4 separate regions of the Homo sapiens genome follow, and regions 1, 2 and 3 are each linked to region 4. The links come from fine-mapping of genetic effects on gene expression. A gene starts in region 4. Each other region holds a variant in brackets. All regions are shown on one strand. Distances are between the middles of the regions. Region 1 overlaps MAP2K2 (mitogen-activated protein kinase kinase 2). Region 2 holds the start of ZBTB7A (zinc finger and BTB domain containing 7A). Region 3 overlaps MAP2K2 (mitogen-activated protein kinase kinase 2). Region 4 holds the start of MAP2K2 (mitogen-activated protein kinase kinase 2).

Region 1 (5,727 bases), 27 kb before region 4:
CCTCTGCACTTTGGTGCCAGGGGCAGGACACCCCCCAGCGGGAGGGTGAGAGGGAAAGAGGGTGGGAAACCCCGCCTGGTGGGTCAGAAGCCTGGACGCAACCCCAGCTAACTGTCTAATAAAACCCCAGGCCCGGGGCAACATCGCCGGAGCGCACGCCAAGGGCCCGGGGCAACTCCGGCACCAGGAGTGCGGTGCCGTTCCACGGCGTCCCGAGCTCACACACATGGACCGGCCCTGTGGGCAGCGGGGTGTCCGCAGCTCCTTCCCCGTGGTCTGCGGCACATGCCTGTGAAGCCCACGCCACAGGTGCTGCTGGGTGCTTGGGGGCAGGAGAATGGAGTGGGGCTGGCGACCCTCCCAGAACCTGCGGGCGGATCCCGGGGAGCCCACAGTCAGCACACCAGGGGTCCGGGGACCAGACAGAGGCTTCTCCTGCTGCAGACAGTGAGCTGGGGACACCGTCATGTGCACAGGGCCTGCAATCCTGCTTCACCCCTGGGCTCACGGACAGGATGGCATGGCAGCCGGGAGCTGCAGCCCCACAGCTCTGGGAAAAGGAATCTGGCTTCCCGTTGGGCTGAGTCCTGCCTAACGCTGCACTGGGATTCTGGATGGGCAGGCTGGGCCACGGGCCCCACCCAGGACCCGGAAGGAGTGGCACATCTGGGTCCCGGCCAGGGGTGTGGGCAGCCCGGCTCCACCTACCATTTATTGACAAACTCCTGGAAGTCGGGGGTGAACACACCGTTGGGCAGCTTAGGAGGTGGCTGTGGAGGAGAACAGAGGGTGGGGTCAGCCCTGGGCATCGTCAGGGACCCTCGGCTGCAGCCCTCTCTACCCCTCACTGTCCTGTCCGGTCACCCACCCTGCAGGCCTGGCCGACACCACATGCCAACTGGGCTGCACCCTGTCAGAGGTGGCCTTCTCCCGAAAGCTCTCGTTTGAGAGTCACGGCTGCTTAGAGGGAAAGAGTGGGGTGCGTCCCCCTTTTATCAACAGGACAACCTCTCGAGTGTCGTCACTTGCTTCCTTCCCCAGTGTCACTGGCTGAAGGATGAGCTTTGGGACTGGGCCCCACAGAGGGACATCTGGATCCAAAGTTATTTTGTTTTGAGACAGTCTCGCTCTGTTGCCCAGGCTGGAGTGCAATGGCGTGATCTTGGCTCACTGCAGCCTCCACCTCCGGGGTTCAAGGGATTCTCCAGCCTCAGCCTCCTGAGTAGCTGGGATGACAGGTGCCCACCACTGCGCCTGGCTAATTTTTATATTTTTAGTAGAGACGGTATTTCACCAGGTTGGCCAGGCTGGTCTCGAACTCCTGACCTCAGGTGATCCACCCACTGTGGCCTCCCAAAGTGCTGGAATTACACACCTGAGCCACCGTGCCCGGCCAAACTGGGTCCACAGTTTTAAGCCCAAGCACTGGGGAGCCTGGCCTGACACACGTCCCCGGAGCGGGAGTGGCCGTGTAAGCGGTGCCAGCAGGGCAGGGGCAGGCCTTTCCCGCGCAGGGGCAGGGGCGGGAAGAGGCGGGGGAGAGGTCGGGGGATGTGCTCACTGGGCATGGGTGTGGCTGCTAGGTGCAGGGAGAGCTGGGTCACCAGGGCCACCCCACCTGGCTCCGTCATCATCTCGCCACCCAACCCCAGGCCTAGCCCAGTCTGCAGGCAGCTCAAATGCCCGTTTCTCTGCCCCAGCTCCAAAGGGCCACCAAAGACACAGAAACCCACAGAAGGCCCAGGGAGGTGGCCCGGCCTGGTCACGTGGCCAACAGGACCTTGGGGTGCAGTCCTGTGCCTCCCTGACAGCTGCAGGCCTGGAAGGAGGCCGCGTCCCTCCTTGTGCCTTGTTTTACTCATCTGGGCGGTGGAAACCCTCATACTGTGGCTCACTGGGTTGTTATGGGGACTGACGGAGCAGGAGCCACCCCGGGACCTACAGGTCCTTCTAGGCTCTCTGGGCCTCCTTCCAAGAGGCAAGGGCCATTCCTGTACCTTTCTCCGTGGAAGCGGGGTGATTTATGAGTCCACGCCCACGGGCGCCAGGACGCTCTGATGCAGAGACACTGGGCCACTGCTCAAGGGGCAGGCTGGCTCCTCGGCCTGAGCCCAGGGCTGCTGGCACACACCTCCCTCTGGACTCAGGGTGAGAGGCTGCGGTGGGAATTCTGGGTTCGTCTTCATAAAAAAACAATGCCCTTGGGAAGGAGCTGGGCTTGTGCAGCACAGTAGAAGATGGGAGACGCGACACACGTGGAATTGGTTCAAGAATTGCTTGAACCTGGGAGGCGGAGGTTGCAGTGAGCTGAGATCAAGCCACTGCACTACAAAGCTAGACAATGTCTCAAAAAAAAAAAAAAAAATTAGCTGGGTGTGGTGGTGCGCACCTGTAATCCCAGCTACTCGGGAGGCTGAGGCACGAGAATCACATGAGCTTGGAAAGTGGAGGTTTCAGTGAGCCGAGAAGGCACCACTGTACTCCAGCCTTGGTGACTCTTGCTCTGGTCAGAGAGAGACTCTGCCTAAAAAAAAAAAAAAAAAAAAAAAGAAAGAAGAAAGAAAAGGAAAAGAAAAGCCAAAAGGCATCAAGCACAAACCTCGTTCACAATATAGTCCAGGAGTTCAAAGATGGCCATGGCAGGCCGGCTATCCATCCCGTGACCTGCACAGGGAGAGAGATGGAGG[T/C]GAGATGGGCCGATGGCCACCTCACTTCTGCTGGGGGTTGGGCTCCCAGGGGGCTGATCACCACCAGGCGCCCTCCTCCACATGCCAGCCTAAATTGGAGGCGGGTGTGCAGAGGCACTGGACAAAGCTCCCCTGCCTGACTCTGGGTTCCATTCCCTGGGACAGCTACTCCTTGCCTGAGCCTCTAGTGAATTAAAAAAAAGGCAAAAGGAACAAGAACATTTTTTGAGAAGTCACACATTTGGCTCGGTGAGGCTTGCCGGACGTGCCAAAGTCATCACCCCTCCTCTCTGGAGGGCAGGGGGAGGGACGGTGCTGACCGCAGGCAAGGACAGCCGCGTGACCTTGCATGGAGCTGCTGGCGGTGATGGGGGCAGGCCCCAAGTGCCACTCAGGACGGGAGACTGGCTAGGGGTGGCTGACCCCTGTCTGAGAACCAGCTGGCCAGGCCTGGGCTTGGCAGCTGGACTTTCGCCTTCTGCCCGTCCTGAAATGGGCAGGTGGGCTGGGGCCCTGGGCTGGGGATGGTATACCACCTGAGAGTTGGGACTGGGAGAGGCTGAGGCTAGGCCTGAGGATAAGGACTTGGGGGCCTCTCCCTGGGATGAGATCAAGACATCCCAGCAGTCTGGCTGGAGAGGAGGAGGTGGGCTTGCCAGTGCTATGAAAATCTCCTTCTCACAGCCCCAATCCATCCGGGTAGGACCACAAAACGTGGCCTGTTCGTGTCATAAAATACTACTCAGCCTTTCAAAAGGACCCAGGCTCTGACACGCACCATGGCGTGGATGACCCTTGAGGACACTGCGCTCCAGGAGAGAAGCCACACACAAAACACAGAAGGCCACACAAGTGTGTGACCCCATTTCTGTGAAATGCCCAGGACAGGCCAGTCCAGAGGCAGGAAGGGGATGGAGAGTGACAGCTGATGGGGACAGGGTTTCCTCTTGGGGAGCTGAGAAGGTTCTGGAATTAGAGGTGATGGGGCGCAGCACTGTGACTGAAAACCACTGAACTGCTCACCTGAAATGAGTTGTGGGGTGTGTGCTTTGTAGTTCGGAAACATGGTTTTAAAACCAACCACAGTCCGCTACAGGGTCCTTTGGGGTCTGACGCCACCAACTCTCCCTGATGTCTGACTTTAAAAAAAATCACAGGACCCTCCTGTGATTCTGCACCAAGCAGGGTCCGCCCCCGGCTCTTCCCTCAGGCGGTGGAAGTGTCCGCTCGGCCCTCTCTGACTGGCGTCAGGGAGCTCCCGCTCCCGAGGTGCCCGCCCTAAGTGCCGGATTGTCCTCTGCGAGCCCAGCTGTCCCTGGGGCCTGAGCCCTCCCGCCCCCTCCCGGGCTGTGTCCCCTCCTGTGTGTGTTGGGGCCGGAGCCAACAGGCCACTGAGGGCCATGCCAAGTCCAATCTCCACTTCAGGACTCCCTGGAAGGCTTGGCCCGCAGCACAGGAGCGTGTCACCTGCAGAATGCAGGCTCTGTGGCGGCCAATTCCTTCCACTTTTCTGTGCGTTTGAATGCTTTCGGGATAAAATGTTGGAAAATCCAACTGCCCAGGGGCTTGGTGGCAAAGCTGCGCTCCCAGATCCCTCCAGCTGGCAACAACAGGTGCAGCTGCCCCGGACAGAACAGGTTTGGGGTGCTCACTGCTTCCAGCTCTGTCCCCGGAAACCCCAGGACCATGGGAGGACTGCTGACCACAGTCGGCACCATCCAGGGGGACAGGTGGTGCGCCAGGGGCAGAGGGGAGGCAGCTGCTGACCCTGGCACAGCAGGCCCCGCGCAGGGCACTGCGCGTCCAGACCGGAAGTTGCAGATTCAGGCCGTACCGCTGACGGGGCGCCCGGGGGGCCTCGGCCGAGGCGAGATGCTGTGAGGCTCTCCTTCTTCCCCGTCGACCACGGGCCGGCCAAAGATGGCCTCCAGCTCTTTGGCGTCGGGCGGGGGGATGGGGTACCTTCCGACGGCCAGCTCCACCAGGGACAGGCCCATGCTCCAGATGTCCGACTGCACCGAGTAATGTGTGCCCTGCAACCGCTCCGGCTGCAGCAGAGCCAGGGAGGAAAGAGCCCAGAGGGGCGAGGATGGCAGCTGGAACCCGGGAGGCTTGCCCCGTTACAGCCCCCGTCACCCTCTCCATGGCTAATGACCGCAGCAATGGATAGAGAGCTGTTACGCAATTCTACCTCCCGGCTCACCCACCCAGGGCCTCCCTGCGGCACTTGCTGAAGAGGCTTCCAGCCCGAGGCCTGGAGCTGGTGTTGACCGCAGCTCTTGAAGAGCCTGCAATGCTCAGCACTTTTGGGAATGGATGATGGGCCCCAGGAAGCAGGGGCCTCCTCCTCCACAGCTAACATCTCAGAGGCTGCTCCAAGGCTCAATTTGGCAGGTTGCTGAATCCCCAGTCGTTTCCTGAAAGACCCCAGATTCCAATTCCTTGGTCCAGAAATTAACTAAGGGCCGGGTGCAGTGGCCCATGCCTGTAATCCCAGCACTTTGGGAGGTTGAGGTGGAAGCCCAGGAGTTAAGACTAGGCTAGCCAATATGGCGAGACCCCATCTCTACTAAAAACATTTTTTTAAAAGTTAGCCAAGGCTGCCGGGCACGGTGGCTCACGCCTGTAATCCCAGCACTTTGGGAGGCCGAGGCGGGCGGATCACAAGGTCAGATTGAGACCATCCTGGCTGACATGGTGAAACCCTGTCTCTACTAAAAACACAAAAAATTAGCCGGGCGTGGTGGCGAGCGCCTGTAGTCCCAGCTACTCGGGAGGCTGAGGCAGGAGAATGGTGTGAATCCGGGAGGCGGAGCTTGCAGTGAGCGGAGATGGCGCCACTGCACTCCAGCCTGGGTGAGAGTGTGAGACTGTGTCTCAAAAAACAACAACAACAACAAAAACAAAAACCAAATTACCCAGCTGTGGTGGCACATGCCTGTAGCCCCAGCTGCTTGGAAGGCTGAGGCAGGAGAATTGCTCCCGGGTGGGAGGCGGAGGTTGCAATGAGCCAAGATTGTGCCATTGCACTCCAGCCTGG
Region 2 (8,043 bases), 55 kb before region 4:
CTCAGGCTTCGCACGTGGTGGTGGCGTCAAGGGAAAGGAGGGGGGGTCCGGGCCAGAGGAGACGGGGTCACGCGCTTTGGGGGCGCGGACGGCGGGGACTGGGGTGCTCTCTCCGCCCCCTCCCGCGGGTCGGAGCCGGACGGCCGTCCGGGCAGGGCGAGGGGCCAGGCCAGGCCCCCCACCCGGGGCTGAGTCAGGCCCGGGCGGGGGCAGGAAGCGGCCCCCTCCCCCGCCCCGGCCGCAGCGCGCGGCCCCCGCCCGGCCCGCGGTCCCCCGCCGCCTCGCCCGCGCGGGGGGCTCCTACCTCCTTCCCGGGGCAGCGGCGAGGGGGCCCGGCCCCGGCGGCGGCGGTGGCGGCGGCTGCGGCTGGGCTGGCTCCCTCCGAGGGGCCGGGAGGCGGCAGTGAGCCTGGCCCCGCGCCACCCCCCGCCGCCGGCGGCCAATCCCCACCCGGGCTGGGGGGAGGGCGATGCAAATTACCCCGGATCTGGGTCCGCCCGCCCGCCTCCCCCACGCCCGGGCCCGGCCTGCGCTAGGCCGCGCATCCCCGGGCTCGCCTGCACCGCGCGGCCGCCCGGGCCGCCGCCCTCCCCGGGGAGCGCGGGGAGGGTGACCCCCCCCCCACGGGCGGGGGGCCGAGGGGAGGGGGGCTGGGGACGGTTACACAACCAGGCGGGGAGGGGCCCCGGGGCGGGGAGGGGGCCGGCCCGCGGGCCGCGCAGCCGGAAGCCGGGACCGCCACCGGCCCCCGGCGAGGGGAGCCCGGCTCCAGGCCCCGCCCCCTGGCGGGCTGGCCCCGCCCCCGCGCCGCGCCGCGCGATCGGCCCGCGCCCATTGGCTCTCCGGCCCGCCGCTCACCGCCCCTCCTCCGCACCGCCCCTACCCGCAGGCCGCGGCGGGCTGTCGGCGCGGGGCACCCTGGGACTTGTAGTCCAAGCCGCTTGCCACCTGCCGGCTGCAAACGGCGGAGGGACTACGAAGCCCAGAGGTCCCTGCGGCCCTGCCCGCCCACCCGGACACCCCACCCCTTCCCCCTCCTTTCCGAAGCCCCCCTCCCTGTTTTTTCAGCCCCCTCCCCCCCATCCCCCATGGAGCTCAATCCTGGCCAACTCCAACGTATGCACGCAGCACCGAATAGGCCCCCGGGGGGCGAGAGCGCCCCTCGTCTTCAGCTGGAAACTTAGCAGGCGACGCGCCCCCCTATCTCCCCACGCCGGCTCCCCCCACCCTCAATGCAGCCCTGCTTCCCCTCCCCCGCTCCCCGCGCGCCTGGGAGCCCCGAAAAGCCATGCACCCGGGTTGGGGGGGGCTGGCGCACAAGCTCATGCACTTAGCCCCCAATCCCCCCTTCCCGGGCGGCGCCCCCTCCCCGCGCTCGGGATCCAGGGCGCCTCCAGCCTCCGGGCAGCTGCCAACCACCCCTTCCTCTGAAACTTGGGGGAACGTCCCCGGCTCCCCGGATCTCCCCTTCCCGAGGGGGCAGCGGTGGCCGCAGCGACCCCCGCCCGTCCCCGCCCTGCACCCCGTGCCGGGGGCCGCGCCGGGCGCTGACTTACCTCGCGGGGCCGGGCCGGGGCGCGCGGGGCCGGGGCCCGAAGTTGGGACTGGGCTCCCTCGGCCGCTCGCCTCCGGGGTCCGCGGCGCTCGCTCTGCCCGCGTCGCGCTGCCCTGGTCGCTCCCTCGCGCGGCGGCGGCGGCGTCACTGCCCCTACAGTAACTGTACAGTACAGCCAAAGCCCCGTATGATGCTCGCGACTCCCTTCCTGGTTTCTCCGAGGGCAAGAGGGGTCCTCCCTTGTCTTAAAGGTGCCGCAGCCGCCGGCCCCCCCACGCCCAGCCCGCCCCCCCCAGCCTGGCCTCGGAGGCCAGAACAGGCTCGGCAGGTCCCCTCTTGCCACGTCTCTGCCCTCCCGTGGGGCTTCGCCCGCTGCGCCGGGGAGACCGGGCTGTTATTAGGTTTTGTCAAGTCGGGGGGGGGGGTCCGGCCCGCCCCGGCGCGCCCCCCCGCCTCTGACCTCTCCGCCCCGCCGCGCGGCGCCGTGCCAGCTTGCCAGCTTATCTGGCCCCAGAGCTCCCCGGGGCGCGGGGGGAGCGGGCCCCCCGGGGTGGAGGGGGGGTGGGGGCCTCCAGATAAACAGGCCCCCAGCCTCTGCGCAGGGGCGGGGTGCGGGGGGGCGCGGGCTGTGCCCCCGACGCCCGGGGCGTGGCAGGATGGCAGCGGGGGCGGGGAGCGCGGTGCGCACAGCGAGGAGCGACGCGGGCGTGTGGGTCGCGCGGCCTGGGCTGCCGGGGGTGGGTTGGGGGTGAGGCGGTGGGGATCCCCCCGCAAGGCCAGGCCCTGGGCCTCCCCGGGCCTCAGTGGGACTTGCCGCGCCAGGGACCCCGGGGGGTGGCCTTGCCAAGGACAGCCCGGGTCCGCGGGGCTCCCGGGTCCCTAAATGAAACCACCAACCTGCCCTCCCGCGATTATATAAAGGAGTCGCCTCCACCCCGCTGCGCTAGGGGCGTCAGCGGGGGAAGGGGTTGGCGAGGGGCGGGGAGGGCGGTTGTTTTCCCGGCTTCGCGAGTTCCCCCACCCGGCTGCGGGCCGCGGGGCGGGACGGGGACCGGGCCCTGGACGCCTGGTCCGCGCGGGCCGCTCCTTGGCACAAGGGGGTCTGCATGGCTCGCGAGGGGCGGAGGTGGGGAGTGGGGAGGCGTTGGTTCAGCGCGACTTTTTTTTTTCCCCTGTCCGTTTCTCCCACTTCCTCCCCGGTCGTGGGAGAGGTCCGGCGGGGGACAGGGAAGGGGGAGCAGGGCACGAGTGGTGAGAACGTCCTGGCCCGGCCCGGGGAGGGCTGGCTGGTGCGACCGCGCGCCTGGGGGGGGGGGGGAGGGCTCCAGGACTCAGTTTCCCCTTCCTCATTCCTCCAGACAGAGAGAGTACTGACAGCTGCTTTAGCTGCCGTTTAGTGAGCGCTTATCCAGTGGGTGACCCTGTTCCGGGGCTCACTGTGCCTTCATTCTAACACCTAATCCCAGGGTCATTATTATGTTTTATTATTATCTGGCATTCTTAGTACCAACACCACCTGACAGCGGGAACCACCACCGGCCTGGGTGTAGTGTACCCAGCCTGTCCTCTGACTTCAAAGCCTCTCCTGCGAGAGACACAGTTTATGGCTTCTTCGCACAATTTATTAAAAGCGCCTTTCAACACCCAAACGGGTTGGATTGGCTTTTGTAATAATAATCTGGCTACGAGGGGAAACCCGGGAGGGCCCCCCGGAGGGGAAGTGGACTGTCTCAGGACTCGCAGCCTGAAACCAGCCGGGTAGGTGGGAAGGGACCCAGGGAGGGGCCGCGTGGATCTAGGGCGAGGGTGTCATCCAGGGACTTTGCTCCAAGGACCCTGCCTGGGATAGAAATCCTTCTTCCTTCAACCACCGGCCATCAGCCTCGGGACCAGGAGGCCACGCTGAAGCACGATTCTTCCCAGATCCCACTGTTGTGTTTGGATTTCTGCAAATGATGCCCAGACGTTTTTTTTTGTTTTGTTTTTTTGTTTTTTGTTTTAGACAGACTTGCTCTGTCGCCCAGCCTGGAGTGCAATGGCACGATCTTGGCTTACTGCAATCTCCGCCTCCCGGGTTCAAGCGATTCCCCTGCCTCAGCCTCCTGAGTAGCTGGGATTACAGGCACCTGCCACCACGCCCGGCTAATTTTTTTTTTTTTTTTTGTATTTTTAGTAGATACAGAGTTTTGCCATGTTGGCAAGCCTGGTCTCAAACTCTTGACTTCAGGTGATCCAACCACCTTGGCCTCCCAAAGGGCTGGGATTACAGGCGTGAGCCACCGTGGCTGGCCTTGGTTTTTTTTGTTTGTTTGTTTTGTTTTTTGTTTTTTTAATAGAGATTTGGTGGGGCCGTGGGGGGGTCTTGCTATGTTTCCCAGGTCTCAAACTCCTGGGCTTCAGTGTTCCTCCCACCTGAGCCTCCCACAGTGCTGAGATGACA[G/A]GAATGAACCATCGTGCCAGCGAGACGCCCAGGCTCTAAGCTCTACATGGTCTAACTTCCCCCACACCAGGAGCAGCAGGTGACTCAGTTTCCCCTCTTGTACCACCAGCCTCAGATCCGATCCTGCAGGAAAAGGATCGAGAAAGCCCCACTCGGATTCTCCATGGTGAGAACCTGACTCAGAGGGGCAGGGGCTCCTCTGTGAGACGGGCATGGACCCTAATCCTCATCGCAGCCCTGAGAAGAAGCAGAGACTACAATTTCCACCATACAGTTGGGGAAACTGAGGCCCAGAGATGGACAAGGAGCAAGGATGTTAAGTCCAGCATTCGCGTGTCTCTGGACGCTGCCAGGGGGACCAAAGGGAGGTCCTTCAGGAAGTGCCAGGATGTGGCACACCCCAAACCACGCCCCCCGCCCCTGTCATGAAAACAGAACGAAGGGGACCCAAAGCTTCCTCCTGACCTCTGCCCTTCACTTCCTTTTTCCTCCCCCAACCAAAAAAAAAAAAAAAAAAAAAAAACCCGAGTTGATACTATTGAAAACCTAATAAAGTATAAAAGATTGGGTTGCTGTGTGATCTTGGGCAGGTTGCTTAACCTCTCTGATCCTCAGACTCCTTTGGAGAGAAGAATCGATGCAACTTCCTAGTGTTGTGACAAGGGAGAAATGAGACGGTGCATGGAACGCTGAGACAGCACAACCCCTGCACCAGGGAGGTCTTCATTACATGATAGGTGTGATTATATTATTAATGTTTGAGTCACGCCTATTATTTTTGTCTCTGTGTAGCCAGGGGTTTTCTGTTTGTCTGTTTGTTTGTTTGTTTATTTGTTTGTGAGACAGAGGTTCACTCTTATTGCCCAGGCTGGAGTGTAATGGCACGATCTCGGCTCACCACAACCTCTGCCTCTCAGGTTCAAGCGATTTTCCTGCCTCAACCTCCCAAGTAGCTGGGATTACAGGCATACGCCACCACATCCGGCTAATTTTTTTTTTTTTTTTTTTTGAGACAAGTCTCACACTATTGCCCAGGCTGGAGTGCAATGGCACGATCTCGGCTCACTGCAACCTCCGCCTCCCTGGTTCAAGCGATTCTCCTGCCTCAGCCTCCTGAGTAGCTGGGATTACAGCCGCGCACCACCATGCCCAGCTAATTTTGCGTTTTTATAGAGATGGGGTTTCACTATGTGGGCAAGGCTAGTCTCAAACTCCTGACCTCATGATCCGCCCGCCTCGGCCTCCCAAAGTGCTGGGATTACAGGCATAAGCCACCGTGCCCGGCCTCTAATTTTGTATTTTTAGTAGAGACGGGGTTTCTCCATGTTATTCAGGCTGGTCTTGAACTCCCGACCTCAGATGATCCGCCCACCTCGGCCTCCCAAAGTGCTGGGATTACAGGCGTGAGCCACCGGGCCCGGCCGTAGCCAGGGTTATTATCCTTGGTGGATAGATGTAGACAGGGGACCAGGGAGGAGGAGTAACTTAGCAAAGACACAAAGGGAGTGGCTGGGGGGACTTGAGTTTCAGTTACGTTGACTAGACTGTGCTGTGAAGTCATGTAATATTTTATTTTATTTTTATTTATTTATTTATTTTGATACGGAGTCTCCCTCTGTTGCCCAGGCTGGAGTGCAGTGCCGCGATCTCAGCTCACTGCAACCTTCACCTCCCGGGTTCAAGCAATTCTTGTGCCTCAGCCTCCCAAGTAGCTGGGACTACAGGTGCACGCCACCATGCACAGCTAATTTTTGTATTTTTACTGGAGATGGAGTTTCACCATATTGGCCAAGCTGGTCTCAAATCCCTGACCTTGTGATCCACCCACCTTGGCCTCCCAAATTGCTGGGATTACAGGCATGAGCCACCGCGCCTGGCCCCATCTCCATTTTTTAAAAATAAATGAATAATAATAATAATGAAATAGAATGTTTATTTTATTTTATTTTATTTTTTTGAGGTGGAGTCTCGCTCTGTCGCCCAGGCTGGAGTGCAGTGGCGCGATCTCGGCTCACTGCAAGCTCCGCCTCCAGGGTTCACGCCATTCTCCTGCCTCAGCCTCCCGTGTAGCTGGGACTACAGGCATCCGCCACCACGCCCGGCTAATTTTTTTTGTATTTTTAGTAGAGACGGGGTTTCACTGTGTTAGCCAGGATGGTCTCGATCTCCTGACCTCGTGATCCACCCACCTCGGCCTCCCAAAGTGCTGGGATTACAGGCGTGAGCCATCGCGCCCGGCCGAAATAGAATGTTTATAACAGCATAATTCACAACAGCCAAAAGGTGGAAACAATTCCAGTGTCCATTGCTATTATTCTTTTCTTTCTTTCTTTTTTTTTTTTTTTGAGACAGAGTCTCCTGTGTCACCCAGGCTGAAGTGCAGTGGCACAATCTCAGCTCACTGCAACCTCCATCTCCCAGGTTCAAGCGATTCTCCTGCCTCAGCCTCCCAAGTGGCTGGGATTACAGGCACCTGCCACCATGCCTGGCTAATTTTTGTATTTTTAGTACAGAAGAGGTTTCACCATGTTGGCCAGGCTGGTCTCAAACTCCTGACCTCAGGTGATCCACCCATCTCAGCTTCCCTAAGTGCTAGGACTACAGGCATGAGCCACTGCGCCCAGCTTCCATTATTAGATCAATGGATAAACACAGCATAGGACATCCACACAGCGGAATATGACTCAGCCATGAAGAGGAGCAAAGCTCTGATGCAGGCCACAGTGTGGATGCACCTTGAGGACATCATACTCAGTGAGAGAAGCAAGACACAAAAGTCCAAACTGTGTGATCCCATTTCTCTGAAATGTGCTGAACAGGCCAATCCATGGAGATACAAAGTGGATGCGTGGTTGTCAGAGGCTGGGGAGGGGAATGGGGGTGACTGCTATTGGACATGAGGTTTATTTTGGTGATGATGAGAATGTTCTGAAGTTATATAGAAGTAATGGTTCCATAACTCTTTCAATATTCTAGAAACAACTGTGCTTTTTATTTTTCATTTTTATTTTTATTTATTTTCTTTCTGACGGAGTCTCGCACTGTTGCCTGGGCTGGAGTGCAATGGCACGATCTTGGCTCACCGCAACCTCCGCCTCCCGGGTTCAAGCAATTCTCCTGCCTCAGCGTCCTGAGTAGCTGGGATTACGGGTGCCCGCCACAACGTCCCACTAATTTTTTGTATTTTTAGTAGAGACGAGATTTCACTATATTGGCCAGACTGGTCTCGAACTCTTGACCTTGGGAACCGCCCACCTCGGCTTCCCAAAGTGCTGGGATTACAGGCGTGAGCCACCGTGCCCGGCCTTGTGCTTTATTTATTTATTTATTTATTTAGAGACAGAGTATGACTCTGTCTCCCAGGCTGGAGTGCAGTGGCGCAATCTTGGCTCACTGCAACCTCTGCCTCCCAGGTTCAAGCAATTCTGCCTCAGCCTCCCAAGTAGCTGGGACTACAGGCACACACCATCATGCCCGGCTAATTTTTGTATTTTTAGTAGAGATGAGGTATTACCATGTTGGTCAGGCTGGTCTTGAACTTCTGACCTTGTGATCCATCCGCCTTGGCCTTCCAAAGTGCTAGGATTACAAGTGTGAGCTGCCGCGCCTGACCTATTATTTACTTATTTATTTAGAGACAGAGTTTTGATTTTGTCACCCAGGCTAGAGTACAATGGCGCGATCTTGGCTCACCGCAACCTCCACCTCCCGGGTTCAAGCCATTCTCCTGCCTCAACCTCCGAGTAGCTGGGATTACAGGCACCCACCACTACACCGGGCTCATTTTGTATTTTTAGTAGAGACGGGGTTTCTCCCTGTTGGTCAGGCTAGTCTCGAACTTCTGACCACAGATGTTCCACCTACCTCAGCCTCTCAAAGTGCTGGGATTACAGGCGTGAGCCACCGTGCCCGACCTAATTACTTTTCTTTTTATTTTGTAGATAGAGACAGAGTCTGGCTATGTTGCCTAGGCTGGTCTCAAACTCCTGGGCTCAAGTGATCCACCAGCCTTGGCCTCCCAATGTGCTGGGATTGTAGGCATGAGCCA
Region 3 (8,043 bases), 35 kb before region 4:
TGCATCCAAAAAAACAAAACAAAACAAAACAAAACAAAACCACCCAGCGTGGTGGCTCACACCTGTCATCCTAGCACTTTGGGAGGCCAAGGCGGTCAGATCATTGAAGTCAGGGGTTCGAGACCAGCCTGGCCAACATGGTGAAACCCTGTCTCTACTAAAAATACAAAAATTAGCCGGGTGTGGTGGCACATGCCTGTAATCCCAGCTACTCGGGAGACTGAGGCAGGAGAATCGCTTGAACCCGGGAGGTGGAGGTTGTGGTGAGCCGAGATCACGCCACTGCACTCCAGCCTGGGCAGCAAAGCGAGACTCCATCTCAAAAAAAAAAAAAAAAAGAGAGAAAAACCTAAATATTTCATATTGATTCCAAGGTGAAACGGGAATATTTTGGCTCTGCTGGGTGAAATATACTATCAAATCATCTGTTCTTTTCCTCTATTTTGTTTATTAATATTTATTTATTTATTTATTTATTGAGATGGAGTCTGTCTCCCTCTGTTGCCAGGCTGGAATGCAGGGGCGCGGGGTGGAACAGGTAACTCCTGCGCCCCTGCCTCAGCCTCCCAAGTAGTTGGGATTACAGGTGCCCACAACCATGCCCAGCTAATTTTTGTATTTTTTGTAGAGATGGGCTTTCATCATGTTGGCCAGGCTGGTCTTGAACTCTTAACCTCAGGTGATCACCCACCTTGGCCTCCCAAAGTGCTGGGATTACAGGCATGAGCCCCTGCACCAGAACGGTATTTATTTTTTTTGAGACAGAGTCTCGCTCTGTCACCCAGGCTGGAGGGCAGTGGCATGATATTGGCTCACTGCAGCCTCCGTCTCCTGGGTTTAAGTGAACAGGCCGGCTAATTTTTGTTTGTTTGTTTGTTTTGAGACAGAGTGTTGCTCTGTCGCCCAAGCTGGAGGGCAGTGGCACGATCTTGGCTCACTGCAGCCTTCCTCTCCTGGGTTTAAGTGAACACGCTGGCTAATTTATGTTTGCTTGAGATGGAGTCTCGCTCTGTTGCCCAGGCTGGAGTGCAGTGGCATGATCTCAGCTCACTGCAAGCTCCACCTCCCAGGTTCAAGGGATTCTCCTGCCTCAGCCTCCCTAGTAGCTGGGATTACAGGCGCCCGCCACCATGCCTGGCTAATTTTTGTATTTTTAGTAGAGATGGGATTTCACCATGTTGCCCAGGCTGGTCTCGAACTCCTGACCTCAAGTGATCCTCCCGCCTTGGCCTCCCAATGTGCTGGGATTATAGGCGTGGGCCACTGTGCCCAGCCCTTTCTATTTAAAATGTTTTAACAGGGAAATCCTGCTAAAACTGGGAAATGTACATTTCGTCTGGGGTGCAATGTGCACATTGGGTTGGGGTGGCAGGGATGGGGACAGGACGGGGACGCTATGGCGTGGTGCCCCGCGTGGAATCTCACCCTCTGGGCGGCTGGTTGCTTCTCCGGCCTCATTTCATTTGATGACCTTTCCACTTGCCCCACCCCGAGGCGGTTGTTGCAGGAGGAGAAGGAAGTATGTGCCTGTCCCAGGGCCGGCCTGGGTCCCACCTGGGGAGAATTCCACAGGATGAAGCGAGCAGGCAGTCGCCTGTGACCCCAGCTTCATAAATCAAATATGTTAGCAAATCCTGCCCGGCACACAGCCTGGGGCACTTGCATGGAGCCAGTGACTTTTTGGTGTGTCCGGGGACAGACTGCACTATGGAGAGGGATGTCAGGGCTGCCCATGCTCTCCGGAGGCAGAAGCCAGCACATATGAGCAAGTCAAGCGCTGTTTATTTACGATGAAAATACCAAGCTGGGGGGTGGGCGTGGTGGCTCACGCCTGTAACCTCAGCACTTTGGGAGGCCGAGGCGGGTGGACGGCTTGAGGTCAGGAGTTTGAGACCAGCCTGGGCAACATGGTGAAACCCTGTCTCTACTAAAACACAAAAATTAGCTGGGTGTGGTGGGCACCTGTAGTCCCAGCTACTCGGGAGGCTGACACACAAGAATCAGTTGAACCGGGAGGTGAAGGTTGCAGTGAGCTGAGATTATGCCACTGCACTCCAGGCTGGGCGACAGAGCAATACTCTGTCTGGAAAAAAAAATACCGAGCTGGGAAAACAGCCGACAAAACACTGTAGGAGTCTTCTTGGGGCCACAGGTGGTGTGCCCCAGGTCCACGTGGGCCTCAGACATGGGGGCAGGGCTATCATGTTGTCGAGAAGTTTTTTTTTTTTTTTTTGAGACAGAGTCTTGCTCTGTCGCCCAGGCTGGAGTGCAGTGGCGCGATCTCGGCTCACTGCAACCTCCGCCTCCCGGGTTCAAGCGATTCTCCTGCCTCAGCATCCTGAGTAGCTGGGACCACAGGCGTGCTACCATGCCTGGCTAATTTTTGTATTTTTAGTAGAGACAGGGTTTCACCATGTTGGCCAGGCTGGTCTCGAACTTCTGACCTCGTGATCCGCCCCTCTTGGCCTCCCAAAGTGCTGGGATTACAGGCATAAGCCACCGCTTCCGGCCTATCTGGAGGTTTTTAATAACCACAGAAAACCTCAACACGTCTGTGTAAAACCTTCCAATGTCAAGGAGTGAGCTGCCCCAGGGCCCCCCAAGGCCTGGCTTTCAGTGACACTCCCTTCACCCTAAAGCCCCGCAAACGTTATTTATTATTTATTTTTTATTATTTTTTTGAGACGGAGTCTCGCTGTCTCGCCCAGCCTGGAGTGCACTGACACAGTCTCAGCTCACTGTAAGCTCCGCCTCCCAGGTTCACGCCATTCTCCTGCCTCACCCTCCCCAGTAGCTGGGACTACTGGCATCCACCACCAAGCTCGACTAACTTTTTTTTGTATTTTTAGTAGAGACAGGGTTTCGCCGTGTTGGCCGGGCTGGTCTTGAACTCCTGACCTCAGGTGATCTGCCCACCTTGGTCTCAAAGTCCTGGGATTATAGGCGTGAGCCACCCAGCCCATGCCCTGCAAATTTTAAAATGCTGCATGTTTTACAGGAAAGGGTCTGGCCCCGGGAGGCAGGGAAATCCTACCCCCTGGACTGCAGCATGTCCGTGGCCAGGGCAAAAAGGGGCATCCCCAGGTGTGTAGCCACCTTTGGGAGCACCCGGGATCCCTTCCCAGGCCTCCACAGTGGAGAAAATGAGGCAACGAGTCCAAAGGACAGCAGGCAGGAGGGGGATCTCGGATGAGGCGGCGGCTGGGTCTGGGAGGTTTCTTGGGGGAGCAGGAGTTGAGAGATCTAGAAACCGCCAGGGTGGACGCACTCTTGCCACATCTACAAAGTAGTTTCTAGAAGTCTGACCCTGAAGCGAGGCAGGGAAGATAGGCAAGACCACGGCTTCTCTCCCGTCCTTCCCTCTGGGGTGCCGTGGGGCTCCAATGAAGCTGCAGGATGGCTGCGCACACCGCAGGGATCCTGGCGCGGGGTCCATCCCCACCTAGCCCAGACTGCCCCTGCTCCCCTGGGACTCCGTGTCCTTTCATTCCTTGCCAATGGCAGGGGGTGGCCGGGACCCTGGGGTTTCCAGGACCGGCCGAGGTCCCGCCGGTTTGGAGCACAGGCAGCCAACACATTCCCCCCGGCCCTCCCGGCAATCCTGAGGGTCCTGGTTACCCACAGGGCGGCACCTTCAACACTTTTTTTTTTCTCCTATTTTTTATTTTTTGGGGCCACACTCCGTCGCCCAGGCTGGAGTGTGATGGTGAGATCTTGGCTCACTGCAACCTCCACCTCCCCAGGCTCAGGTGATTCTCCTGCCTCAGCCTCCTGAGTAGCTGGGACTACAGTTGTGCACTACCATGCCCGGCCAATTTTTTTTTTTTTTTTTTTTTTTTTTTGTAGAGATAGGGTTTTACTATGTTGCTCGGGCTGGTCTTGAACTCCTGGGCTCAAGTGATCTTCTTGCCTCGGACTCCCGAAGTGTTTAGATTACAGGTGTAAGCCACCAAGCCTGGCTTTTTTTTTTTTTTTTTTAAGTCATGTGAGACTTTAGGGCAAAACATAAAGGAGAGCAGCCTGGGGAGCTGTTTGCAGGAGGTGTCAACTCATCTCTTCTTTGGTGTCTGCAGAAAAAAAAAAAAAAAAAAAGCCACACAAGACTAGAAGGGTCACCCTAAGAAGAAAAGGACAATCCAGCAGTTCCCACAGAACCACAAGCCCCCACCTTCTGCTTTGTTTCCTCCAGAAACACAGTTGCCAGCCACCCTTCCCCTACAATTCGCCCGCAGATAATATCAGCTTGCTGGTAGTCTCCAGGAAGTACTGAAGGGGGAGGCTCACAGCCTCAAGAGCTTTAGAGAGCTCAGAGGGACCCTAGAACAGCCCAGCTGCCCACCACACCTAGCCCAGAGGTGGCCTCCTCTATCCGAGCACACAGTCCCGAAGGTAGAAAGGCTGGGCTTTGGATCTCGGACAACCGGAGAAGCAGGCGATGGGCCTCCGGGAACCCCGAAGACCCCAGGACAAGCCCTCACCGTTTCATCTGCAGCCCACTGCGGCGGAACAGTTCAAAGGCCCGAAAGTGTCACATGCCCTGGTGGTCACTTCTGATTTGTTGGGCGAGGAGAGGTGACAGAACCACCCGCCCTGGGCTGGGCCTGCTGCGGACGCAGGGGGAGTGCAGGGCGTGTCTCGGGACCTGCTGGGGTTTCCAACCAAACCGACAGCTTGGAAAGCCAGCGCTTCCTTTCTGTGGGGCTGAGTCTCAGCTCAGCTGCCACTGCTGGGAGCCCCCACTCCCTGAAGCGGGGGGACAGGGAGAGGATGGTGCCACGCTGGGGAAGAGGCAGGGGCGGCCTTCCCGCGGAGGCTACGTGACAGGAGCAGTGTAGAGGAAGTGGTTTCCATCACGGAAGGCCGAAGCTCTGCCTTCCACAGGGGCAGAGATGGTGGCGGGGAGGACACAGAGGGAAACCAGGTGGCATTTCCCTTCTTTTTTTTCAGTAGCCTTGCTCTGTCACCCATGCCGGAGCGCACTGGCACCATCGAGGTTCACTGCAGCCTCAATCCCCTGGGTTCAAGCGATCCTCCCGCCTTAGGCTCCCAAAGCACTGGAATGACAGGCATGAGCCGCCGCCCCCAGCCTCACTCTCCTTCCTTTTGGTGAGAGCCGCCATCGCCTGGGGGCTCACTGCAGGTCTTCATCCCTTGACCCAAAGGGAGAGGCGAGCTCTCCCTAAGGGAGGGCCCTGCGCCCTCCAGCCTCGGCGCCCGGCGATGCGGGTCAGCTCAGGGATGTCCTCTCCGTGCTGGGCTGAAGCAAAGCCCAGCACCCAACGCCGAACGGAAGAAAGAAGCAGGATGGCGCGGTTTGCTTTTTCTCTCCCTGTTTTGTTTTGTAACCTAAGGAAGCAGAGCCTCTGAGACCACACACAGCAGCGTCGCCCGTCCCCAGAGGCACCCCGGCCAGGAC[G/T]GGCAGGAGAGGAGACCCCCGTTCCTGCATGCGCTGTCGCCCCGCCACGGTGCTCTCCGCAGGGGTGAGGCAGGAGGGTGGGTGGAGGCGCCAGCCTGTCCTCAGCTGGAAGGGCGGGGCATGGACAGGGACGGTGGGCAGGTCACCAGCGGGACGCAGGGAGCCCGGCCACTGTCACACGGCGGTGCGCGTGGGTGTGCCGGGCTGGTTCAGCCGCAGGGTTTTACACAACCAGCCGGCAAAATCCACTTCTTCCACCTCGGACCGCTTGATGAAGGTGTGGTTCTGCAAGGAAAGGGGAGCCGTGAGCACCCGGGCCTGGAGTCACAGTAGGACGGGGAGGGCCAGCGTCTGCCCAGCCCTGGCAGATGGTACGGGACAGAAAGCAAAAAACAGAGGAGACCCTCCCTTCCCCACAGGAAGACGCACTCGGGGTAGGAGAGGGAAAGAAACCCAGAAAGGGGCAGCGGCGTGTGCCAGGCCTGGGAGGGGTCTCAGGATGCTGCACTCCACCTGGGGCGGGGACACCACCAGCACGGCAGCCTGCGCTCCCAGGGGAGGGTCTACGCTCGCGCAAGCCCAGGGTCCTCCGGCCGCTGTGGACACCGGGGCCGGATCATTCTCTGGCGTGGGGCCATCCTGGGTACTGCAGGGTACTGAGCAGCGTCCCTGGCCTCCACCCACTCCATGCCAGGGGCTTCCCCAAGTCGTGACACCACAATGTCCTCAGCCATTGCCAGGGTCCCCCGGAGCAGGACAGCCCAGGCAAGAACGGGCTGTTCCACAGAACTCCGCGAAGAGCATTGTACAGGCACCGTCCCACTCGCCAGCACATGAGGCTCCAGAGCCCCTGGACTGTGGCTCCCATGGCTTGAGAACAAAAGCCTCAATTTTATTTCAGTTTAACAAATTAATTAAATACTTTTACTTTAATTTTTTTTTTTTTTAGATGGAGTTTCACTCTTGTTGCCCAGGCTGGAGTGCAGTGGTGTGATCTTAGCTCACTGCAACCTCCGCCTCCCGGGTTCAAGCGATTCTCCTGCCTCACCCTCCCCAGTAGCTGGGATTACAGGCATGTGCCACCACACCCAGCTAATTTTTGTATTTTTAGTAGAGACGGGGATTCACCATGTTGGCCAGGTTGGTCTCGAACTCCTGAACTCAAATGATCCTCCTGCCTCAGCTTCCCGAAGTGCTGGGATTATAGGTGTGAGCCACCGCAACTGGCCTTAATTTTTATTTTTTGAGACAGTCTTGCTCTGTCGCACAGGCTGGAGTGCAGTGGTATGATCTCAGCTCACTGTAACCTCTGCCTCCCAGGTTCAAGCAATTCTCCCGCCTCAGCCTCCCAAGTAGCTGGGATTACAGGTGCGTGCTACCATGCCCAGCTAATTTTTGTATTTTTAGTTGAGACCGGGTTTTTCCATGTTGCCCAGGCTGGTCTCGAAATCCTGTCCTCAAATGATCCGCTCACCTCGGCCTCCCAAAGTACCGGGATTACAGGTGTGAGCCACTGTGCCCGGCCCCACTGAACACACTTCAACAGCCACGTGTGACCAGCGGTTCCTGTACAGGACAGCACAACATGAGAAGCCTCTTGGTTGGAAGGGCTGGGGGAGGAGGGCGGGTGCCCTTGGGGAAGAGGCTGTGCTGGGCCACCCCACAGTGGGTGAGTAGAGGCCTTTGGGGTTCCCAGGAGGGTGGTGTCCAGGACCTTGGGCCCCTGAATGCTGCCTCTTTTGCAGCTGGAGGCAGGCCAAGGTGCCTATCTTCCTAAAAGTCGGTGTAGGTATGGGTGAAAAACCAACCAACTTGATAGGACACATCTTGGCTAGGTCCAGGATACCCAACAGGGGAGCATTTTTAAGAAGCTGGTTCAAAAATGGCTATTTCAGCCAGGCCCAGTGGCTCATGCTTATAATCTCAGCACTCTGGGAGACCTAGGTGGGTGGATCACAAGTTCGAGACTGGCCTGGTCAACATGGTGAAACCCCATCTCTACTAAAAACACAAAAATTAGCCGGGTGTGGTGGCACGAGCCTGTAATCCCAGCTACTCGAGAGGCTGAGGCAGGAGAACCGCTTGAACCTGGAAGATGGAGTTTGCAGTGAGCCGAGATTGCGCCACTGCACTCCAGCCTGGGCAACAGAGCAAGACTCCGTCTGAGGGAAAAAAAAAGTTATTTCAACATTAGTACCCCTCTCTTTTTAGTTATTTATTTATTTTGGAGAGGCACAGTCTCACCATGTTGCCCAGGCTGGCCTTGAACTCCTGGCCTCAGAGAGCCATCCCCCTATGGCACTAGGATTCCAAGTGCCCACCACAATGCCCAGCCTGCCTCATTAAAAAAGAAAAAAAGTCACACATGCCAGGTGCAGTGGCTCACACCTGTAATCCCAGCCCTCTGGGAGGCCAAGGTGGGAGAATCATTTGAGCCCAGGAGTTTGAGACCAGCCTGGACAATTAGCAAGACCCTGTCTCTATAAAAAAAACTAGCTGGGCAGGTCGGGCACGGTGGCTCACGCCTGTAATCCCAGCACTTTGCGAGGCTGAGGCAGGCAGATCACCTGAGGTCAGGAGTTCGAGACCAGCCTGGCCAACACGGGGAAACCCCATCTCTACTAAAA
Region 4 (8,043 bases):
AAACACCATCTCATTCCATTCTCACCATCGTCCCCGGAGGCCCAGGCAGGAGGGAACAGACTCACAGGGGTGGGGGAACCTGCCCGAGGTAACAACACCTGCCTGAGGTCAGGACAACCCCTGCTCATCTTAGTGTCCCCCATGAGGGGAAACAGGGCCCTAGTAGGTGCTCACTGAGGAGCTGCTGAACAAGGACCCAGAAGAAGCAGAAATGGCGAGACCCTGGGAGTGGGACAGAAGGTAAGGAGGGGAACATGAATGAATGAATGAATAACATCAATGAATAAATGAATATTTATTTTTTTTGAGACAGTCTTGCTCTGTCGCCCAGGCTGGAGTGCACTGGCACGATCTCAGCTCACTGCAACCTCTGCCTCCTGGGTCCAAGCGATTCTCCTGCCTCAGCCTCCTGAGTAGCTGGGATTACAGGTGTGCATCACCGCGCTCAGCTAATTTTTTTGGCATTTTTAATAGAGACGGGGTTTTGCCATGTTGGCCAGGTTGGTCTTGAACTCTGGGCCTCAAGTAATCCACCCACCTTGGCCTCCCAAAGGGCTGGGATTACAGGCGTGAGCCACCACACCCAGCCATGAATGAACACTTCTGATGGCAGACTTGGAAGGTCTCAAGTACTGCTCAAAACATTGAAAATGCATTCTGGAGTCAGCTGACTAATCCATCTTAAATTTACTGGCAACCCAACTGTGGTTATTAAACAAAACAAAACAAAACCTTGGCGTCCCTACAGCCAGCTTCCTCTCCTGGGGGAATCCTTCAAGAGATGGGAATCAAACCCCACACGGAAGAGAAATGTGAAGGGCGAGTTCTGTGCAGAGAATGAGGAACGGGTCCCCGTGTCTGGCTGTGCCCGTGTTGACTTGCACACATTGGCATCAAGAGTCTTCATCTGGGTCACAGAAGGCCGACCCCCAAGCGGGAGAGGCCACCAGACATGCCACAGTCCCTGACACCTGGTTCTTGAGGGGTCACACCGCAGGCACGGCACCCGGACCCCAGCCAAGGGCCCCGGGGATCGCCCTGCCCTGCCTCGGCCTGCAGAACGGGAGTGCAGAGATCACCCTGGCATGACCCCACCAGTGTGTGCCCCCAACACCCAGTCCCCTCCCTCGTCCTGGAGCAGTGCGATTCTGCCAGCACGCCACCCGGACCCCAGCATACCCCTTTCTCAGATCCCTTCACCCAGGCCTCTGGTCGCCCTCCACCTCCTCAAAGCTTCTGCACTGGGTCAGCCCCTCACAAGGGTTTTCCGGTCCACTCACTTCAGAATCTGCACCTCTGCTTTCAGGGGCCAGCAGGGTCCCCTGATCCCCACGCCTCCTCGTTCCTCACACTCTGGCTTCCCTGTCTCCTCACACTTCCAGCTTCAGGGACTCCACACACTGGGCACCGCCACAAGCAGGAGATGCCCTCTCAGAGATGCCCATCTTGACATCTTGACCTCCCTGGGACCCCATCCTGACCCCCTCAGAACCCCAACATGAGACCCCTAGGACCCCCTGCTCTGCCCTCCCAGAACCCCCACAACATGACCCCCCGAGGACCCCCTAACCTGACCCCCCCAGAATCCCCCAACATGACCCCCGAGGACCCAACCTGACCCCCCCCACAACATGAACCCCCTGGAACCCCTGTCCTGATCCCACTAGACCTCCCCCAGCAGAAACCCCTCCATCTGGAACCCGCTAGAACTCCCATCCTGACCCCGCTAAAGCCCCCCCATGTCCTGACACCCCTAAGACACCCCCTTGTCCTCAGATACCCCAGAACTCCCACCCTGACCCCCCCAAAGTCCCCCGATCCTGACCTTTCTAGGGTCTCCCACCCCATCGTGACCCCCTAGGACACCCCTCTCCCACATCCTGACCCTTCTGGGAGCCCCCTGTCCTCCCCTCTCTTCCCTTTTCCCTGGTTGTCTATGGACCTCCTCACCCCATCCTCTCCCCTAAGGGACCCCCCTGCCCCACCTTGGCACCCTAGGTGCCCTCTTCATCCCATGCCAACCTCATTACTCAGGGACTCATTCCCCAAAAGGACCGCTCCCCGCCCCCCCAAGACCTCTCAGCCTGTCCTCCCCACCCAGGTGCTGCACTCTCAACCTGTGGCTCAGGCACCCTCCCACCCCATCTCTCCCCCATAGGAACCCTCCCACCCCATCTCTCCCCCATAGGGACCCTCCCACCCCATCTCTCCCCCATAGGGACCCTCCCACCCCATCTCTCCCCCATAGGGACCCTCCCACCCCATCTCTCCCCCACAGGGACCCCCTCACCCCATCTCTCCCCCATAGGGACCCCCTCACCCCATCTCTCCCCCATAGGGACCCTCCCACCCCATCTCTCCCCCATAGGGACCCCCTCACCCCATCTCTCCCCCATAGGAACCCTCCCACCCCATCTTTCCCCCATAGGGACCCCCTCACCCCATCTCTCCCCCAAGGGACTCGCTTCACTATCATTTCAATATGCAGAACACCCCTTGCCTATCCTTCCCCCACAGGCCCCCACCGACACATCCTCTCCTCCCAGGGACCCCCTCAACCCCATCTCACAATTCAGGGGCCCTGCACCCCATCTTCTCTCTGCAAGGACATCTCCTTGGCCTGATCTCACGACTTAGGGATTCCAAACCCCATCTTTTCCCCAAAGGGATCTCCCCTCACTCCAATCTCATTACTCAGGGACCCCACCATCTCCCCGATTTCACTATTCAGGGACCGTTCACCCCATTTCACTACTCAGAGACCTACCACCATTCTGCTACTCAGTGACTCCATGCCCTGTCTTTTCCCACAGGGACCTCCCTTGGCCCTATCTCATTATTGAGGGACCCTTACCCCGTCTTTTCCTACCAGGGACCCTACCCCATCTCAGTCTCATTACTCAGGGACCCCTCACCCCATCCTCTCCCCTCTGGAGCCCCCTTGCCCAGATTTCCTCCTCAGGGGCTGCCTGACCTCCCCACACCCCATCCTCTCCTCTCAGGAATGCCCTGCACCCCGATTTCCCTACTCAGGGTCTCCCCTCACCCTCATCTCATGACTACGGCAACCTTTACTCCGTCCTTTCCTCTTAGGAACTCTTCACCCTCATTTCACTACTCAAGGACCCCACACTGTGTTCTCTCCTCTTAGAGATACCCCTCACCCCGATCTCACTGCTTGGGGAGCCTCATCCTGTTCTCTCCTTGGGGACACCCCTCATTCCGATTTTCCTACTGAGGGACTCCCCTCACCCCAGCTTCACTTTTCAGAAGCCCCACACCCCATCTTCTGCACTGCAGGGACCTCCCCTCACTCAACCTCGCTGCTCAGGGACCCCTGTCCCCATCCTCTCCTCTTAGAGACATCCTTCACCCCAACTTCACTACTCAGAGACTCCCGTTATCCCAATTCCACTCTTCAGGAACCCCACACCCCATCTTTTCCACCACAAGGACCTCCCCTCGCCCAATCTCACTGCTCAAAGACCCCCCTGCCCCGTGCACCCTTCGCCCCGTCCTCCGAGGGCCCCCTGCCCCGTCCTCCCCCGAGGGCCCCCTGCCCCGTCCTCCCCCGAGGGTCCCCTGCCCTGTCCTCCCCTCGAGAACCCCCTGCCCCGTGCACCACTCACCCCGTCCTCCCCCGTGACCCCCCTGCCTCGTGCACTCCTCGCGAACCCCCGTCCCCTCGCCCCGTCCTTCCCCGAGGGCTCCCTGCCCCGTGCACCCCAAGCCTCCGGCTGACCCCTGCCCACTCACTCGGAGGCGCCCTCGCTGGTAGGGGATGGGCCCTCGGCGATGGTAGGGTTGATGGTGAGCGCCGGCAGCACCGGCTTCCTCCGGGCCAGCATCGGGGCTCCGCGGGCCGGCGGCGGCGGCGCCTCTAGCCGGGGCCCATAGGGGGCGGGCCGGGAGCGGTCGGCGCCTACGCGAGCCCGGGGCTGCGGCCGCGGCCCAGGCCGGCGTCGGGGCGGCCGAGGGCGGGCGGCGCTGCGGGCCTGGGCCGAGGGTAGCCGAGGGGCGCTGGGGCTGAGGCGAGCGAGCCGCTACCGCTGCCGAGGCCCGAAGAAGGCTGACGCCGCAGCCCGAGTCCGAGAGGCAGGGGGAGGGGAGGGGCGGCCACAAGATCGCGGACCGGCTTCTCGCGATAACGGGATCGGGAGCCGCGATGGACCCCACCCCCAGCCGCCGCGCCTGCGCAGCAGCACAAGGCCGCCTTTCGGAGGGGAAAGGGGCGGAGACCGACGCGAGGCGGTGCCGGGACCGGGCGCCCTCGCTTGCCTTACCACGGCGCGTGTGCCCAAGCGCTTGGGGCATGAGGCGCGGGAGCAGGGGAGGAGACGGAGGGATGAAGGCTGGGGTGATGGTCGTGCACAGGTGGGCAGGGTAGCCAGACTCCTGAGAGCCTGTGGTGCCCCAGGCTGGGGCTGAGAGAACCCGTAAGACCCCAGAACAGTGGACGAGACCCACCCAGAGTCCATTTAATCTTTTTGGCAAGCGTGGACACACGCCCCTAGCCCCCACCGCCTTAGAGTGTCAGTTACTCCCCCTCCTTCATCAGAACAAGGCCACTCTAAAACATTTTTAAAATTTATTTTAATTGACAAATAAAATTGCATATATTACTATGCGCATGTTGAAACATTTTTATTATAAAATACACATAACATAAAACTTGTCATTTTAACCATTTCTAAATGCACAGCTCAGCGGCATTAAGCAACCACCACCACCACCATCTCCAGAATTTTCTCATCTTCCGAAACTGAAACACTGTCCCCTATGAAACCTCACTCCCTATCCCCCTCCCCAGCCCCTGGAACCCAACGTCGTACTTCCTGTGAATCTGATGATTCTAGGGACTTCATATGAGTAGGATCACACAGGTTTTGTCCCTTTGTGGCTGGCATATTTCACTGAGGGCCACGTCCTCAAGGTGCCTGTTGTAGCTGTGTTAGATCCACGTTGTAACCTGTGTTAGAATTTACCCACTTGACTACTCCGGGCATACTTCCAATCGGGTAGCCCTGCTCCAAAAAAGAGCAGAAAAAAAAAAAAAAAGAAAAATTTCCCTTTTTTTTTTTTTGAGACGGAGTCTCGCTCTGTCACCCAGGCTGGAGTGCAGTGGTGCGATCTCGGCCCACTGCAAACTCTGCCTCCCGGGTTCACGCCATTCTCCTGCCTCAGCCTCCCGAGTAGCTGGGACTACAGGTGCCCACCACCATGCCCGGCTAATTTTTTTGTATTTTTAGTAGAGACGGGGTTTCACCGTGTTAGCCAGGATGGTCTCCATCTCCTGACCTCGTGATCCACCCGCCTCGATCTCCCAAAGTGCTGGGATTACAGGCGTGAGCCACCGCACCCAGTCAGGATTTTCCTCCTTTTTAAGGCTGAATAATATTCTATTGTGTGCATGGACTATATTTTGCTTATCCATTTATCTGCCACTAGACACTTCGGTGAATCGTGCCGCTATGAACACAGATGTACAAATATCTGTTTGAGTCCTTGCCTTGAGTTCTTTTGGGTATATGTTCTGAAGAGGAATTACTGGATTATATGGTAATTCTATGTTGAACTTTTTGAAGCACCACCTTACTATTTAATACAATAGCCGTACCACTTTATAAGAAAGGTCATAGGCTGGGCGCGGTGGCTCACGCCTGTAATCCCAGCACTTTGGGAGGTCGAGGCGGGTGGATCACCTGAGGTCAGGAGTTGAAGACGAGTCTGGCCAACATGGTGAAACCCCGTCTCTACTAAAACAAAAAAATACAAAAATTAGCCGGGCATGGTGGCGCGTGCCTGTAATCCCAGCTACTCGCGAGGTTGAGGCAGAAGAATTGCTTGAACCCGGGAGGCAGAGGTTGCAGTGAGCCAAGATCACGCCATTGCACTCCAGCTTGGGAGACAAGAGCGAGACTTCGTCTCAAAAAAATCAAACAAACAAACAAACAAACAAATAAATAAATAAAATACAAAAATTAGCCAGGCCTGGCGGTGTGTGCCTATAGTCTCAGCTACTCAGGCGGCTGAGGCAGGAGAATCGCTTGAACCCGGGGGGCAGACGTTGCAGTGAGCCAAGATTGCACCACTGCCCTCCAGCCTGGGCGACAAAGTAAGACTCCGTCTCCAATAAAACAGAACAAAAAAAAATTTAATTTTTTGCCAGGTGCCGTGGCTCACACCTGTAATCCCAGGACCCTGGGAAGCTGAGGTGGGCTGATCACTTGAGGTCAGGAGTTCGAGACCAACCTGGCCAACATGGTGAAACCTCGTCTCTACTAAAAATACAAAAATTACACAGGTGTGGTGGCGGGTGGCTGTAATTCCAGCTACTAGGGAGGCTGAGGTGGGATAACTGAACCCCGGAGGCGGAGGTTGCAGTGAGCCGAGATTGTGCCATCGCATTCCAGCCTGGGCGACAGAGCCAGACTCACGCTCAAAAAACAAAACCAACCAACTGGCCGGGCGCGGTGGCTCACGCCTGTAATCCCAGCACTTTGGGAAGCCAAGGCAGGTGGATCATGAGGTCAAGAGATTGAGACTATCCTGGCCAACATGGTGAAACCCCGTCTCTACTAAAAATACAAAAATTAACTGGGTGTGGTGATGCGTGCCTGTAGTCCCAGCTACTCGGGAGGCTGAGGCAGGAGAATCGCTTAAACCCGGGAGGTGGAGGTTGCAGTGAGCCGAGATCACGCCATTGCACTCCAGCCTGGGCGACCGACCGAGACTCCATCTCGAAAAAAACAAAACAAAACAAAACAACAAACAAAACACTGCTCCTGGGGAAGCCTGCTCCTGGGTTTTTACAATCTGGGCCTTTCAGTTTTACTTCTCATCGCTCCCACCCGCTTGTCCAAAATTCAGATGGATGCATATGTGGCCTCAAATAAGGACAGGCCCTTTCAGAGACAGGGCTATTTCCATGTTCCTTCTGTTTTGCCTAGCAATCTTTCTCCCATTTTATCCTATTTTAGGCTTTTTTTTTCTTTTTAAGACAAGTTCTGACTCTGTCACCCAGGCCTCAGGCTGGAGTGCAGTGGCACGATCATAACTCTCTGCAGCCTCCACCTCCCTGGCTCAAGCGATTCTCCCACCTCAGCCTCCCTAGTAGCCCTGGCTACAAACATACGCCACCACACTCGGCTAATTTTTGTATTTTTTGTCCAGACAGGGTTTCTCCATGTCACTCAGGCTGGTCTCACACTCCTAGGCTCAAGCGATCCTCCTGCCTCGTCCTCAGCAGTGCTGGGACTAGAGCCGTGAGCCACTGCACTCACCTATTAATGCACAAGTTTCTGAAGTTCAATTTCTTGGATTATTACAACTCTATACATCCATGTAACACTTCCCCTTACTCCAGAAAGTCTGTTCACTGCCTTTTTAGTTCATTCTCTTCCTCTGCACCCAGCAGTAGTGAGCTGGTAAATGTTTAACAATGAGCCATTAAAATAAGGAGAGGCCGGGTGTGGTGGCTCACACCTGCAATCCCAGCACTTTGGGAGGCCAAAGCAGGTGATCACTTGAGGTCAGGAGTTCGAGTCCAGCCTGGCCAACATGGTGAAACCCCATCTCTACTAAATATACAAAAATTAGGCTGGTCACGGGTGTAATCACAGCACTTTGGCAAGCCGAGGTGGGCAGATCACCTGAGGTCAAGAGTTCAAGACCAGCCTGACCAACATGGTGAAACCCCGTCTCTACTAAAAACACACAAAAATTAGCCGGGCATGGTGGTGGGCACCTGTAATCCCAGCTACTCGGGAGGCTGAGGCAGGAGAACTGCTTGAACCCCGGAGGTGGAGGTTGCAGTGAGCCAAGATTGTGCCCCTGCACTCCAGCCTGGGCAACAGAGTAAGGCTCCATCTCGGAAAAAAAAAAAAAATTAGCTGGGCATGGTGGCAGGTGCCTGTAGTCTCAGCTACTTGGGAGGCTGAGGCACGAGAATTACTTGAACCTGAGAGGTGGAGGTTGCAGTGAGCCAAGATCGTGCCACCGCACTCCAGCCTGAGGGAGACTCTGTCTCAAAAAAAAAAAAAA

What was found.
Region 1: its variant is fine-mapped to the expression of MAP2K2 in whole blood (TOPMed, PIP above 0.99).
Region 2: its variant is fine-mapped to the expression of MAP2K2 in whole blood (TOPMed, PIP above 0.99).
Region 3: its variant is fine-mapped to the expression of MAP2K2 in whole blood (INTERVAL, PIP above 0.99).

What each region holds. Positions count from the first base shown.
Region 1 is chr19:4,094,680-4,100,406 of GRCh38, forward strand. It overlaps MAP2K2 (mitogen-activated protein kinase kinase 2), which reads right to left. Exons shown (of 11, transcript NM_030662.4): 7 at 4,522-4,735; 8 at 2,600-2,664; 9 at 709-770. Among named protein-coding and RNA genes, the nearest start is that of MAP2K2, 27 kb to the right of the region's middle. The variant T/C (reference allele first, on the strand shown) is at 2,688.
Region 2 is chr19:4,065,126-4,073,168 of GRCh38, forward strand. ZBTB7A (zinc finger and BTB domain containing 7A) reads right to left here and starts at 1,774. Exons shown (of 3, transcript NM_015898.4): 1 at 1,557-1,774. RefSeq lists silencers at 1,555-1,754, 1,765-1,814, 1,855-1,914, 2,125-2,234, 2,295-2,624 and 4 more. The variant G/A (reference allele first, on the strand shown) is at 3,996.
Region 3 is chr19:4,085,008-4,093,050 of GRCh38, forward strand. MAP2K2 (mitogen-activated protein kinase kinase 2) reads right to left here. Exons shown (of 11, transcript NM_030662.4): 11 at 5,314-5,701. The coding sequence ends at 5,591. Among named protein-coding and RNA genes, the nearest start is that of ZBTB7A, 22 kb to the left of the region's middle. RefSeq lists enhancers at 4,279-4,448, 4,727-5,503, 4,859-4,938. The variant G/T (reference allele first, on the strand shown) is at 5,417.
Region 4 is chr19:4,120,028-4,128,070 of GRCh38, forward strand. MAP2K2 (mitogen-activated protein kinase kinase 2) reads right to left here and starts at 4,095. Exons shown (of 11, transcript NM_030662.4): 1 at 3,757-4,095. The coding sequence starts at 3,848. RefSeq lists silencers at 3,688-3,937, 4,128-4,247.